2 separate regions of the Homo sapiens genome follow, and region 2 is linked to region 1. Evidence: fine-mapped expression QTL. Tissue or cell type: whole blood. Region 1 holds a variant in brackets; the other region holds the start of a gene. All regions are shown on one strand. Distances are between the middles of the regions.

What was found. PIP is the estimated chance that this variant, and not a neighbour inherited with it, causes the effect.
Region 2: it holds the start of ZFHX3-AS1, and the variant in region 1 is fine-mapped to the expression of ZFHX3-AS1 in whole blood (INTERVAL, PIP 0.95).

The regions. Positions count from the first base shown.
Region 1 is chr16:72,441,532-72,449,640 of GRCh38, forward strand. All of the region lies in intron 6 of LINC01572 (long intergenic non-protein coding RNA 1572), which reads right to left. The region is part of intron 1 of LOC124903718 (a long non-coding RNA gene); the gene reads left to right. Among named protein-coding and RNA genes, the nearest start is that of LINC01572, 220 kb to the right of the region's middle. The variant CT/C (reference allele first, on the strand shown) is at 3,255.
Region 2 is chr16:72,660,656-72,668,764 of GRCh38, forward strand. It overlaps ZFHX3-AS1 (ZFHX3 antisense RNA 1), which reads left to right and starts at 4,478. Exons shown (of 4, transcript NR_171704.1): 1 at 4,478-4,678. LINC01572 (long intergenic non-protein coding RNA 1572) reads right to left here and starts at 4,315. Exons shown (of 14, transcript NR_126330.2): 1 at 4,237-4,315. RefSeq lists enhancers at 4,057-4,176, 4,217-4,276.

The sequences.
Region 1 (8,109 bases):
TGTGACTCTTTTTTTCACTTGAACACTTTTTAGAGGCTATTGTTGGGTTATAAATTGGTCTAACTTCGATATTGTTGTGTCTAACATCCATATGGTCTTAGGGAACAGGGAGGCCTGAAGAGAGCAACAGAGATGGGGGAATGCCCACTTGCTCAAGCAGTCAGAATACACACAACATTGATAATTTAAGTTAGCCATCTTATATGAGCATAGTTCATAGCATCCCAAAACAATTACAATAGTAACATCAAAGATCACTGACCACAGAACACCGTAATAGACTGAAAAGTTTAAAATATTGAGAGAATTAACAAAATGTGACACAAAGTGAGCACCACAGACTTGCTCACCCAGGGTTGCCACAAACCATCAATTTGTTAAAAAAAAAAAAAAACCAACACAATATCTGTGAAGTGCAGAGGAGGGTAATAAAACAAAGTAAACCTGTATATGTCAGGTGTTCATATAAACTGCATAATTTTTATGCCCATATTACAGGTAAAAAAGCGTAGGTGAAAAGCTTAAAGTAATAGCTAATACATCACGGAAGTAGCATATAAATCAAGATTTTCAAACTTGGAAACAAATGTTCTATCCCCACTCTCCCCACGAATTTTCCAAGATCAAATGTACCTGATTAATGGTAGCACTGAAGAAATGTTATTTGTTCTGGTTTCTCCAATTTTTCCTCCCTGCCTTAGCACAAGGGAGTTCACAATTTGTAGGGTTTTATAAATTATATTGAAATACCATAGACAAATAATAGTAGCTTGCTTGAAAACACACTAACAGCTGTGCAGGGCACACAACAAGCACTCAATAAGCATCTGACTTATCCAACTTAAAAAATGAGACATTAAATATTGAAAAATTATTTCATGGCACAGAAAGCACATCAGCCAACATTAAAAAATCAAGTACACAGTTATAAAGATGGGCACACTAAGGTGTTGGTATATTATCCCTGACTATTTTTTATGATTCCCCTAGACAAAGGATGTCGAGCAAAGAGGGAACCATATTTGTCCATTGTAAACATTTAGTCTAGAGATTTAAAGGCTGTTTTGCACACTGAGTCTATAGAGAGACAGGCGATTGCTCTCTGTCACAATTTCAAAGTCCATCTTCTTTACCTCATCAATTTGCAGCTTAGTAGGGGTGAGGATGAGGGAAGAGTTATATTGTACTCCCAGAAGTAAGGGGCTGTTTTCCTGCCTGTCATTCTACCAACCTCCCAGAATAAATTGCTACTTAGAAAAAGGGAAGTCAAACATTTGTGAAACATATTGCTATTTAGAAAAAAAGAGAATTGTTTTGCAAATAGTAGCACTATTAAAAGAGCAGAGAGAGAATAGCATCAGTCATTTTATATTACATATAAGCAGTTTATTAAAGAATTAAATATTTATAGACTATAAAGCAAGCAGGCGATGAGTCACAAACAGCTTGCTGAGAAGTACATTATAAAACAATGAGTCTGTCAGTGATTGATAAAGAACGGAGAACGCAAATGCTTTATAAATTCCCTAAGTTAGCTATGAATTTCCAGACCAGAAGAAAAGGACACAGTAGCCAGCAATGTCACACCAACTCTAGCTGATGTATATGCCAAAAGCTTTCAGTGAACAAAAAGTACACTTCTCTTTGATTCGTCCACCTCCATCTAATGTAGAGGAAAGAGCTGCAAAGCACAGAGAACTGCAAGGGCTTTATGGATGCTCACTTCCAAGTTAATAGATGTTAGATTTAGATATCCATATAACTCATTTTATTTTCTTCTGACTTTTTTCTTATTAGATAATAAAGTCCATATAATTTCAAAGAAAGATATCCCCCTTCTTTTCAGAATCATATGCATTAGAGACCAGATCGCCTAATCTAATTCTATCAAGTTAGAGTGAAAGCAACTAGGACTTAAAGGTGTAAAGTTACTGATCCAAGTTCACATAGCTGGTTAATACCAGAATTAGGTTTAAAACTTGGGTCTCCTATCTCCTTGATCAATATTCTTCCCATAGTATCACCTTCTTTCCCCCAATCCCTTTTTAAAATGAAAATTCTGAGCTTTTGCTATTCACAACCATTCATCGGTTAGAAATTGTGAATTCTTTCTCTCATAAAATTATATTTCAATTCAGTTTAGATGATGATTTTAGGAGAAAAAAAGCTTTAAGTGGATAAAACTTTATATCTTCTCTGAGAGAAACAAAATATAATCTGCCTCTCCATAGTCGTTCTAGAGTTTGAGATAATAGGATGCTATTAAGAAAATGTTGGCTCTTTCTTGAGGAAAGGCTTTCTTTTATGCATTAACTACTTGGGAGGATGAATTTTCATTCTTTATGAGAATGACTGGTCAAGACCTAAAGGTGTTGCTAATCTTAAATGCCAAAAGAAGTCATCTCTCCTTGACTTTGTGAGTCATAGCTTCTATGTGTTCTGGATACAGTACTTTGGAATTCCATCCTTTTCTATTCTCTGTCTTCAAATTTAAACAGTCATCTGGTTTCCATATAGTTGAGCTTGAAGTTCCACTTGCAAACTCGACAGAGACACATTGTGAGTCAAATAAAATTATGAATCAAATCCTTTGTACCTTGTACAGATGCTAAAGCACTGAGTAGTAGAAATCAAACCACTGATGCCCCTGCCCATAACCCTACCATTATTTTTTTGGTAATACTTGAATTTCTATGAAACTATATCCAACCAGAAAATCTATTTGATTACATTAGATGCTTCTTTTTAACTTTATTGAGGCATGGTTGGCATATAAAAAGCTGCACATATTTAATGTATATATCTCAATGAGTTTGAGGAGAAGTATACACCCAAGAAACCACTACCATTATCAAGGTCATAAGCATATCCATCACTTCCTCAAGTTTTCTCACGCCTGCTTTACCATTATTATTGTTATTGTTTTTGGTGTGTGTATGGTAAGAACACTTAACATAAGATCTACTCTCCTAGCAAATTTGCCTACGGGCATCATGTTATATGGTAGATCACCAGAACTTAACTTATTTTGTATAAGTGAAACTTTGTACCCATTAACCATAACCTCCCTCTTTTGCCCTCTCGACGGCCTGTGGCAACCACCATTCTACTCTCTGTTTCTGTAACTTCTACTTCTAAAGATTCTACATTTAAGTGAGATTACACAGTATTTGTCTTTCTGTGCCTGCATTACTTAGCATAATGCACTCCAGGTCAACCCATGTTGTTACTGACAGGATTTTCTTCTTCTTCTT[CT/C]TTTTTTTTTTTTTTTGTTAAGGCTGAAAAATACTACATTGTATTTATATGTCATAATTTATCTATGCATCTGTTGGACATTTAAATTGTTTCCACATCTTGACTATTGTGAATCATGCTGCAATGAAGACGGAAGTGCAAATATCTCTTGGACACTGGTTTCATTTCCTTTAGATATACTCAGAAGTGAGATGGCTGGGTCATATGGCAGTTCTATTTTTTAATTTTTTCAGAAAATTCCATATTTTCCATAATAGCTGTACCAATATACATTCTCACTAACAGTATACAAGGATTCCCTTTTCCCCATATCCTTGCCAATACTTGTCATCTGTTGTCTTTTTTGTAATAGCCATCTTTTTTTTAAAATTATACTTCAAGTTCTGGGATACATGTGCAGAATGTGCAGGTTTGTTACATAGGTATACACGTGCCATGGTGGTTTGCTGCACGCATCAACCCATCATCTACATTAGGTATTTCTCCTAATGCTATCCCTCCCCTAGCCCCCCAGCACCCAACAGGCCCCAGTGTATATCCCCTTCCCTGTGTCCATGTGTTCAACTCCAACTTACGAGTGAGAACCTGCAGTGTTTGGTTTTCTGTTCTTGTGTTAGTTTGCTGAGAATGATGGTTTCCAGCTTCATCCATGTCCCTGCAAAGGACATGAACTCATCCTTTTTTATGGCTGTACAGTATTCCATGGTATATATGTGCCACATTTTCTTTATCTATTATAATAGCCATCTTAACAGGTGTTAGGTGATAGCTCATTACAGTTTTGATTTGCATTTCCCTTATAATTAGTGGTGTTGAGCATTTTTTCATATACCTGAAAAGTTATTTGTATGTTATCTTTGGAGAAATGTTTATGCAGGTCCTTTGCCTATTTTAAAATCAGGCTATTTCATTTTTGCTATCAATTGTGTAATTTCCTTTTACATTTTAGATATTAGCCCCCCCTTTTTTGAGAAAGGGTTTCACTCTGTTGCCCAGGCTGGAGTGCAGTAGTGTGATCTTGCCTTACTGCAGCCTCTACCTTCCCAGGCTCAGGTGATCCTACCACAGCCTCCCGAGTAGCTGAGATTACAGGCATGCACCACCATGCCGGGATAATTTTTGTTTTTGTTATAGAGACAAGGTTTCACCACATTGCCCAGGCTGGTCTCAAACTCCTGGACTCAAGTGATCTGCTTGCCTTGGCCTCCAAAAGTGCTGGAATTACAGGTGAGCCACTGCACCCAGCTACCCTTTATCAGATACATGGTTTGCAAATCTTTTCTCCCAATCCGTAGGTGGCCTTTTCATTTTGTTGATTGTTTCTTTTGCTGTGCAGATGCTTTTTAGTTTGATGCAGTCCTACTTATTTTTGCTTTGTTGCCTGTGCTTTTGGTGTCATATTCAAAAGATAATTGCCAATACCAATGTCAAGGAGCTTTTGTCTTATGTTTTATTCTAGGAGTTTTATAATTTCAGGTCTTATGTTTATGTCTTAAATCCATTTTGAGTTGATTTTTGTGTATAGTGTAATATAAAGGTCTAATTTCATTCTTTTTCATGTGGATATCCCATTTTCCCAACACCATTTATTGAAGAGACTAATTTTTTTTCCTGTGGTGTATTCTCAGCACTCTTGTGAAAAGTTAGTTTACTGCATATATGTGGGTTTATTTTTGGGCTCTTGATTCTGTTCCTCTGGTCTATGGGTCTGTTTTTATGCCAGTACTAAATGCTGTTTTGATTACTATAGCTTTGTAACATAATTTGAAATTAGGAAGGGTGATATCTCCAGCTTTGTTCTTGCTCAAGATTGCTTTGACTATTTGGGGCCTTTTGTGCTTCCAAGTGAATTTTCAGATTGGGTTTTTATTTCTGTGAAAAATGTCATTGAAATTCTGATAGGGATCACACTGAATTTTACATTTTAACAACATAAATTCTTCCAATCCACAAACATGATATATCTTTCATTTTCTTTGAGATATCTTTTCATTTCTTTCATCTACCTCAATTTCTTTAATCAGTATTTTATTGTACTACATTGTACAATACAATGTAGTATAATAAATACAGGTGAACACATCTTTCACCTCCTTGGTTACATTTATACCTAAGTATTTTATTCTTTTTTGATGTTATTGTAAATGGAATTGTTTCCTTAATTTCTTTTCCAGAAAACTTGTTGTTAGTGATATAAATACAACTCTATTAATTCCAGCAACTTTATTACTTTTATTAGTTCTAACAACTCTTTGGTGGATTCTTTAGGGTTTTTTTTTTTTTTTTTTTTTTGAAATAAGGTAAAGTTATCTACACACAGAGACAATTTTGCTCTTCTCTTTCTGATTTGGATGGATTTTCCCCCCTAACTGCTTTAGCTAGGACCTCTAGGCACTGTGTTGAAAAAAGTGGCAAGAGTGGGCATCCTTGTCTTGTTCCTGATCTTGCAGGAAGCCTTTCAGTTTTTCATCACTGAGTAGGATGCTAGCTGGGGCTTGTCATACATGGCTTTTATTATGTTGTGGTACATTCATTCTATACGTAGTCTATTGAGAGGTGTTTTTTTTTTTTTAAATCAGGAAATCATGTTGAATGTTATCAAATGCTTTCTCTGCATCTATTGAGATGATCATATGATTTTTATATTTCATTCTGTTAATGTGGTATATTACTTTTACTGATTTGTGTAGGTTGAACCATGACTGGATCCCAAGGATGAATCCCACTTGACAATGGTATATAATCTTTTAAATGTGCTGTAAAATTTAGTTTACTAGTTTTGTTTTTAGTATTTTCACATCTATGTTCGTTACAAATATTGGCTAGTAATTTTCTTTTCTTGCAGTGTCCTTGTCTGGCTTTGGTATCAGGGTAATGCCGGCCTTGTAGCATGAGTTTGGAAGTGTTCCCTCCTTTTCACATTTTTGGAGGAGTTTGAGCAGGACTGGCGTTACTTCTTCTTTAAATACTTGGTAGAATTCACCAGTGAAACCATCTTGTCCCGAGATACTCTTTGTTGAAAGGTTTTGGATTCCTTAGTCAATCCCATTACTTGCTATTGGTCTATTCAAATTTCCTATTTTGTCAAAGCTCAGCCTTGTTAATTTGTATGCTTCTACAAATTTATCCATTTCTTCTAGGTTATCCAATTTGTTAGCATATACTTTTCACAGAAGATTCTTATGATCCTTCGTATTCCTGTGATATCACCTGTAATGTCTCTTCTCTCATTTATAATTTTATTCATTTGATTCTTTTCTCATTTTTCCTTAAAGATTTTCATTATCATTTTCATTATCTTTTCAAAAAACAACTCTTTGTTTTGTTGATTTTTTTCTATGGTTTTTCTAGCCTGTTTCATTTATTTCTTCTAGATGTTTATTCCTTTCTTCCTTCTGCTAACTTTGGGCTTATTTCGTTCTTCTTCTTCTAGTTCCTTGAGACATAAAGTTAGGCTGTTTATTTGTGATCTCTCTTTTTTTCTTAAAGTAGGCATTTACTGCTATAAACTTCTTTGTTAGAACTTCTGTGGCTGCATTGCATAAGTTTTGGTATGTTGATTTTCCATTTTTGTTTCTCTCAAGATACTTTTTGATTTCCCTTTTGATTTCTTCTTTGTGACTCTTAGTTGTGAATATTTACTTTTTTGATTTTTGATTTTAATTTTTGTGCATACATAGTCGCATATGTATTTACAGGGTACATGAGATGTTTTGACACAGGCATGCAATGTGTAATAATCATATCATGTAAAATTGGATATCCCCTCAAACATTTACATTTGTGTTACAAACAATCCAATTATCTTTTAGTTATGTTAAAATGTACAATAACATTATTTTTGACTATAGACACCCTATTGTGCTGTCAAATACTAGGTCTTGTTCACATTCTTTCCTTTTTTTCTTTTGACCCATTAACCATCCTCACCTTCCACTTATACTCCAACTACCCTTCCCAGCCTCTAGTAACCATCCTTTTACTCTCTATCTCCATTAGTTCTATTGTTTTGACTTTCAGATCCCACAAATAAGTAAGAACATGTGATATTTGTCTTTCTATGCCTGGCTTATTGCACTTAGCATGATGACCTCCAGTTCCATCCACGTTGTTGAAAATGACAGGATCTCATTCCTTTTATGGCTGAATAGTACTCCATTGTGTATATGTACCACATTTTTTTATCCATTCATCCGTTGATGGACACTTAACTTGCTTCCAAATTTTAGCTATTGTGAACAATGCAGTAACAAACATAGGAGTGCAGATATCTCTCTGATATACTGATTTCCTTTCTTTTGTGTATATACCTAGGAGCAGGATTGCTGGATCATATGGTAGCTCTATTTTTAGTTTTTTCAGGAACCTCCAAATTATTCTCCCTACTGGTTGCACTAACTTACAGTTTCATCAACATGTATGAGGGTACTCTTTTCTCCACAACCTTGCCGGCATTTGTTATTGCCTGTCTTTTGGATATTAGCCATTTTAACAGAGGTGAGATGAAATCTCTTTGCAGTTGTGATTTGTATTTCTCTGATGATCAATGATGCTGAGCACCTTCGTATGTCTTCTTCTGACCATTTAAAAACTGGATTATTAGATATTTTTCTTATAGAGTTGTTTGAGCTCCTTACATACTCTGGCTATTAATTCCTTGTCAGGTGGGTAGTTTGCAAATATTTTCTCCCAGTCTGTGGGTTTTTCTACACTTTGTTGACTATATCCATTGCTGTATAGAAGCTTTTTAACTTGATATGATTCCATTCGTCAATTTTTGCTTTGGTTGTCTGTGCTTGTGGGCTATTACTCAAGAAAGGAATTTTTGCCCAGACTAATGTCCTGGAGATTTTC
Region 2 (8,109 bases), 220 kb after region 1:
CAATATATGACCTTTTGTGACTGGCTTCTTTCACTTAACATGTTTCCAAGGTTCAGCCATGTTGTAGATGTACATTAATTTGATTGTGGTGATGGTTTCATGGGTACATGTCAAAACTTATCAAAGTATACACTTTAAAAATATGAAATTTGTTGTACGTAAATTGTACCTCAATAAAACTACCAAATAAAATAGGCAAAACAGGTCAGGCATGGTAACTCAAACGCCTGTAATCCCAGCACTTTGAGAGGCCAAAGCAGGTGGATCCCCAAGGTCAGGAGTTCGAGACCAGCCTGGCCAATGTGGTGAAACCATGTCTCTACTAAAAATACAAAAATTAGCTGGGCATGGTGGCGTGCGCCTGTAATCCTAGCTACTCGTGAGACTTAGGTGGGAGAACTGCTTGAACCCAGGAGGAGGAGGCTGCAGTGAGCTGAGATCGCACCACTGCACTCCAGCCTGGGCAACAGAGTGAGACTGCATCTCAAAAAAAAAAAAAAAAAAAAAAGGGCAAAACATTTTTATAGATGCTTCACAAAAGACGTTCAGATAACAAGTGGATGAATGACTGACTACTCTATTTCATTAAGCATCAGAGAAATATAACTTAAAATTACAATGAGACATCAGTACAGACCCAGAGCAATAGTTTAAAAAATTTAAACTACTAACTACTATAAACCCCAAGGGCTGATATGACTGTTGAATAACTGGAACTGCCATATGCAGCTGATGGGAATGCAAAATGGGACAGCCACTTTTGAAAAAGGTTTTAAAGTATTTTATGAAATTAAGGCTGAGCATGGTGCCTCACACCTATAATCCCAACATTTTGGGAGGCTGAGGTGGAAGGATTGCTTGAGGCAGGAGGTTAAGACCAGGAGGTTAAGTCCAGCCTGGACAACATAGCAAGACCTTTTTTCTACCAAACATTACAAATTAGCTAGGCCTGGTGACATGCTCCTGTAGTCCCAGCTACTTGAAAAGGCTGAGGCCCAGGAATTCGAGGTTATGGTGAGCCATATCCTACCTCAAAAACAAAACAAAACAAAACAAAACAAAAATAGAGAGGAAAAAAAAAAGCAAAGAGCAAGCAAGCAAGCAAGAAATTAAAATCTTTGGCCACACAAACACCTGTAGCCAAATGTTTATAGCAGCTTTATTACTAACAGCCAAAACCTGGAAACAACTCAAAGCCCATTAACTGCTGAATGGATAAACAAACTGGTAATACATATAATGGAATACTACTCACACATTAAAAGAAAAAATTAGTGATACATGCAAGAACATAGATGAATCTTGAAAGTATTATATCAAGTGAAAGAAGCCAGACACTACCAGCTCATACTATGTGATTCCACTAACATGATGCCTCCAAACACAAACCTATAGCAGTAGATATCAGATCAAGGGTTGCTAGGGACCAATGGTGAGGATAGAAAATCGATAATAAGTGCATGAGACTTTACAGACTTACAGATATACTAAAAATGATTGTGATAGTTCACAACTCTTCACATTTGTCCAAACTCATAGAACAGTATTCCTTAAAAGAGTCAACTTTACCATATGCAAATTATGACTAAATATGCCCGACTTTGTTTTTTCAAAAGTGAGGGTGAGGTGGGATGGGGTTGGGGGAGACATTATATACAGGAGAACAAAGATAAGAATGACACCAAATATCTAAAAACAACAGCCAGAGGACAATAGAATATTAAAGTGCTAAAAAAAGTCAACCTACAATTATATATCCAGTTTAAAAATAAATCTTTCAAAAATGAAAGTTAAATAAAAACATTTTCTAAGAAACAAACACTGACAGAATCCTTCACCTACATGCAGTATTAAATAAATGAAGTTATTCAAACTGAAGGAAAATTATGAAAATATGGATCTACATAGATGGATGTATTCTATCAAACACTTAACAATGCAATGCCAATCTTATACAAACTTTTTCAAGAAGTAAAGAATACAACACATCCCAGATCACTTAAAGATGTCAGACACCATTACCCTAATTCTAAAACCAGACAATCAAAATAAAGCAAAACTGAAGACCAATCTCCCCAAAATGGCAACCGAACAGTGAAAAAAAATTTAGTTAAAGCCATTCCTCACATCATATATAAAAGCAAATTTCAGGTAAGCTAATGTTCTCATGTGAAAGATAATGCCTGAGATGGTTAGGAAGAAGATTATGAGATTATATTCAGGTATATGCTGGTAGAATTCACCATAAAATTATTTTAATATAAAACATCCAAAAAATTAAGGCACACAAACTATTTTCACTCTTCATGTTGATCAAGAATTTTCCTATTTCTTGTTAATTCAAAAAGACTCTGGATGCAATACCTTGTGAACTTATTTTTTGGTATGCCCCTGTGCTCATATACTACCTTACTACCTTTATCTCTCTGTTTTTTGTTTGTTTGTTTTGGAGATAGGCACGATCATTGGCCACTGCAGCCTGGAATTCCCCGGCCCAAGTGATCCTCCCACCTCAGCCTCCTGAGTAGCTGGGAGCAAGGCGAACACCACCACGGCTGGCTAATTTTAAAATTTTTTTGTAGAGATGGGGTCCGACTATCGTCTTGAACTCCTGGGTTGGTCTCGAACTCCTGGGCTGAAGCAGTCTTTCCACCTCAGCCTCCCAAAGTGTTGGTTGGGATTACAGGCGTGGACCGCCACACTTAGAAATGACTTTTCTAATATCCTTAAATCAGAGCTCATGTAAAATTTTCAGCCTTCTCATTCCACCTCCCTCCGAACTACAAGTCTTAAAACTAAGAAATGACAGCCATTCGGTAGAAGTTAAAACACTGTTTCGCTGCTTATTTCTACTTAAAAAAATTATATACATAGATATATATTATGTAAATATATATAATTATATATATAGACATACGTGTGTGTATATATATAAATAAACGTGTAGAATTGGACTGGGGTCCCACTAATATCCACATTTCAAAACAGAATCTAAAACTCCCTAAAACAGGGTTGGGCTCGGCGGCTCACGCTTGTAATCCCAACCCTTTGGGAGGCTGACACTGGAGATCAGTCTGAGCAACAAAGTCAGATCTCTTTTCTACTAAAACAAAATACAACTCTCTAAAACTAATACAAAATTTTGTGTGTATGTGTCATATTCTGGAGAAAAGCTCCAAGGTTTTCCTCTGGGTCTTAAACAGGACTAAGACCCCCCACCCCCAAAAGAATCTCTGTTCTAGAGGCTAAGCATATAGAAGCTCATACTGCATTATCAAACTGGAAAGTTAATAGAGGATTTTCATGGTCATATACAGGAGAGGTGGGGAAAGCTGTCTATTTAGACTGTAAACTCCTAAAATGTTCATAAATCTCAATGGAAATTAAATCCACCGGGGTGGGAGAAGTATCACAATAGACAAAGAAGCTAAAGGTTAATGAAGAGAAGGTTTTAATCAGTGGTTACTTTTGTGCTTGGGATCAATCCTCAGTTTGTCCTCCAACGTAACTTTTGGCATTATTCATTTCAAAGTCTGAACAGTATCCATAAACCCAATACGAAACCTATGGATCCAGAGGGTCCGACCGAAAACAAAACAATTATGTTTCCGATGTGAACGCATCAATAGCTTACTTTTGTAGCGCTTTATAAAACGCTGTCACTTGCTGCTTTCCACGTCATGATATTCCCGGTCGGGAAGAGTAGGACAGCAGCATCTTTTATGAATAAGGAATTTTTTGGATTCAATTTGTGAGGTGTGGGACGCTCACCAGGTTGCGCGAAAACCATTTTTCTACATCGTCAAGTGCACGCACCCCGTGTCTCATAGTATTAGTGATGAAGACGAGGATGAAACTACCAAAGACATCAGTGGGGAGTGAATTATACTTGGGGGAGGTGTAAGCACGTCGAAATAAGGAAGCTGAGAGACATTTTGTGAAAGAGGGAAGGTAGCGTTAAGAGGAGCCTTCCATCAGGGGCAACAGAACGGGGGCAGGCGTGGCGTCTCTGGGACTGCCGGAAAACGACGTGAGGGAAAAACTCAGAGGCTACGAAAAGGCGAACAGACGGAGGGCCTGCCTCAGGGGAGCTAAGCAGCTCGCCTGAAGCCCCCCATCTGGAAATGACGTGTTTAACTCGGCGCCCCTGCAGCTCCGGCCGCCCTTTTTTGTTTAACTCCGCGCCCCTCCAGCTCCGGCCGCCCTTTTCGTCGCTCTCCCCTCGCGGTCGCTCACCCCTGAGATCCCTGGTTCCACTGAGACGCTCAGCTTCATTCGGCAACTCGCGGACACCAAGCGCCACAAATTCAAATACGAGATCTAGAGACGCTGGGTCTCAAACGTCTCCCAGAGTGAAAGACAGAGGAACCAATCGAGGCTCGGCTGACCTCAGACGTCTAAGGCGATAGGCGTTGCTAAGAAAAGGGGGTGGGACGATACCCAGTTGCCAAGACGACGGCTTCCGGGTGGGCGGCTTGAGGTGGCTTCCGGCCGCCAGGCGAGACTCCGCGGGAAAACTCCCTGCTAGAGAGACTAGGAGATTTGGGGCTGCGGCCGTTTCCTCCGGAGCACCCACGGGACTGTGTGCTGGGGTCCCTCCACCGGCTGTGTCCTTTATTCTTCTTTCTCACCCAACGATTTACCTGAACGGTTATAAAGTGCACGTTATTTCCCTAAGGTAAGCGTGTGGTAGCGCCTCCTCCTCCTCCAACAGGGGGGTAACAGAAACCTGCTGTCAACTTTGTTACCCAACATAACTGTACTTAACCACAAAAAGTTGAAATTTTGGATCTTTAAACATTCAATAACCTCTTGCTGTGTGAGGTTTTTTAACTGCACTACATACATTTTGTAGTCTTTAACCATTGAATGCGATTTAAGTTTACAATGAAATTTAACGTTCTGGTTGTTTCTGACCCCAAATTTCATCTGAACCAGTTAATGGACGAAGAACTGAAATTTTATTTTCTGTGACAGTCTCATAGGTTCTCAGACTTAAGTTCTTAATCGCCCATAAATCTGAAGGCAGGTGTTAAAGATGAGCAGGTGATTTGAGCCCAGTCCATGCCAACACTCAAACTAATTCAGCTGAGACTCCTTTCGTTAGGAGCATTATTTTAATTTTAAAAATTTTAAACCGAATGGTAAGCATGGCTGCTTTAGTTTCAGTTGTGTCTCATTTGATGATGATAGTCCCACACAAGACGATCTCATTTGTCAATGAAAGTAAACATTAGTGACCACACAGCTTTCTGCAGATAACTCTTTAAACGAACATCTTTTATCAGACCACAGAAATCATTGTTATTGTCACTAAAATGTAAAAACTAAAGCAAAACTTATCTGCTTATCAACAATTTCTTCCTCCATAGCTAAGGTAGGGAAGCATTTATGAAAGCTTAGATCTATATGTGTTTGGGATCCTGCCAACCCCTTTCTTAAAATTCCATCTTCAAAACTCCCTGCTAATGAGCACTTTTCCAACAGCTTGGATGAAACATTCTGAATAATTCGTCAGCCTGAAGGTTAGAAATTTCATTAAATAAAAAATTAAATACACAGAATACTTAAGTATGAAACATTAATGAACTGAGTAATACATTCTTAAGAAGAGGAGGCACTTAGGAAAACACAGGCCACCTGCATTGTGGAGCCATTTAATGTGATGAGATTTGATAAATGGGTAAGAGATCAAAAAATGCCCAGGGTTTCAAAAGAGAATGTTCCATGAGCAGCTTACTGCCTACATAGACCATTTGAAAATCAAACCAACTCAGCAGAAGCCCAAGAGGCCTTCAGATGAACCCGAGTATCCTTTGGATGTCAGTGTTGTACTGAACAAAGTCAGTTGAACTGTTATTTATCTGACAAGAAAAAAAAATGCCTAAATTTTGTAAGGACTTACACCATTCATTTAAAAATATATAGTGATCTTAGAGGTTAGAAAGCACAGAAAAGAAACTTGAACATAGAGGTACTTAAAAGGAGAAAAATAAATTTCCTCCGGTAGTAGACATGTATTTGGCATTGTTCACTGTTATCTCCTTGATGTCCTCTCTCCTCAGCTTGGCTGAATCCTACTTACGCTTTTAAGACCCAGGTCAAATTGTGAATCTTTTGTGACCTAGTCCATAGTCACCTCTCTCCCTCCTGAATGCCTATAATAGTCTTTATTTGGCATTTTTTTGTATTCTTTATAATGTTTCTTATTTATGTTTATGAATATATCTTACATATAACTTGCATCATCTAAACCCTAAACTACTCAGAATTGTGTTCACCATGTACCTGGCAGACAGACTTGAACAAATAAGTTTTGATGTAAAACTGCCAAGATTAATACTAAATATAGTTGAGATCCATATTAGTTTGCTAGAGCAAACATAACAAAATGCCACAGACTAGGTGGCTTAAACAACAGAAAGTTATTTTCTCACAATTCTGGAGGCTAGAAGTTCAAGATCAAGGTATCAGCAGGGTTGGTTTCTTTCTGAGGTCTCTGTCCTTGACTCAGATCACTGTCTCATCTCTTTGTCTTCATGTGCTGTTTTCTCCATGTGTGTGCACACCTGTGTCCAAATTTTCTTTCCTTGTAAGCACACCAACCCTACTGGATTTAGGCCCGTGTTAAAGACCTCATTTTAGCTTAATTACCTCTTCAAACACCTTATCTCCAAATAGGGTTACTTTCTGAAGTACTAGGGGTTACACCTTTAACATATAACTTTTGGGGAGACTCAAGGCCATAACAGTAGCCAAGACTCAAAAAGCAGAAATGATTGGGAGCAATTATCTGTCACCTTTCAGAACTCCCATTTTTAGACCTATAGATAGCATAAATGTGTAAGTCAGATTAGTGTAAGATAATAGGAAGTGGTAGGGCCTGTGGCAATTCAAAGTATATTTGCCCAGACAGAAGACATTCAAATTAAAATTGTAAACAACCCTCCATCCCCACCCGAGCCATCCAAACAAAACAGTTTGGCTGGTTTTGACTTACAGGTTATCAGTTTGCAAAAACCACCACCATGTTACTTCGTTTGGAATCATAACCTGATGGTGGATATTGGACATATTAAGTATTTTTATTGCATATCCAAATACATTTTTCCCAGACCCCATTGGTTTATGCACAGCTTTTTTTATTGAGTACTTGTTGTGTTAAAGGAACTGTACTAAGTGCCATGCAGGGATTAAGATCCATACGTTTGGCTACATATATCCTAGAGTTACAAGGACCTATTTTTGAGATCATTTATTAAATACCTAACTTTACAAAATTTAATTTTTTGTGTAACTTTATCGTGTAAATAAATTTGAACTCCAAAAAAAATTTCTTGTCAGACTACATGCACCACAAAGACCAAGACTGTGGCCTCAAGTACAAGGGTAGAGGAAATGAGACAAATAAAAAAATAATTATTGAGCAAGATGAAAGAAGACCATAAGAGGATTATAGATAAAGTGCTATGGAAGATTACAGGACAAACAGATTTCATCCAGCTGGGTGTGGTGCTGAAGGTATTTAATGCAGTTCGAATTAATCTTTTCATGGCACTTGGTACCTCTAATATATCATTAATCGGCATATTATATGGTAGCTATTTGCTTATGTTCATATCCCTCCCAGTACGTTCTGAAATACACAAGAATGTCATAATCTTTATTTGTTCCAGTCTAATGTTATTCAAAAGCATCTAGTGTTACCCAAAGGAGTCAATTGGGGAACTTTTTAAAAAGAAACTTGTCTTAATTCTAGCTCTGAAGATTGTAATTAAGTAGGCCTGGAGAGGTGGTGGAGGATCTCTATTTTGAAAAGTTTTCCCTCACTTAATAAATCTGGTGATCACACCATTTAGAATCTACTGCCCTAGAGCACCTAGTATATAGTATGCTCTCAGTAAATTGTTGTCACATTAAATGAGCAGAGCTGCAATTTAGTAAGATTAATAAGACTCCAGTGTGTAGGATGAATTAAAGTGGGAAATATCCTAAAGGCAGGAAAATCCTATTACAGATGTCCAGCTAAGAGATGAAGCAGCCCTGAACTAGGGTAGAGACAATAGGAGATAAATGGATGAGAAACACTGAGAAGGTAGAATGAGCAGA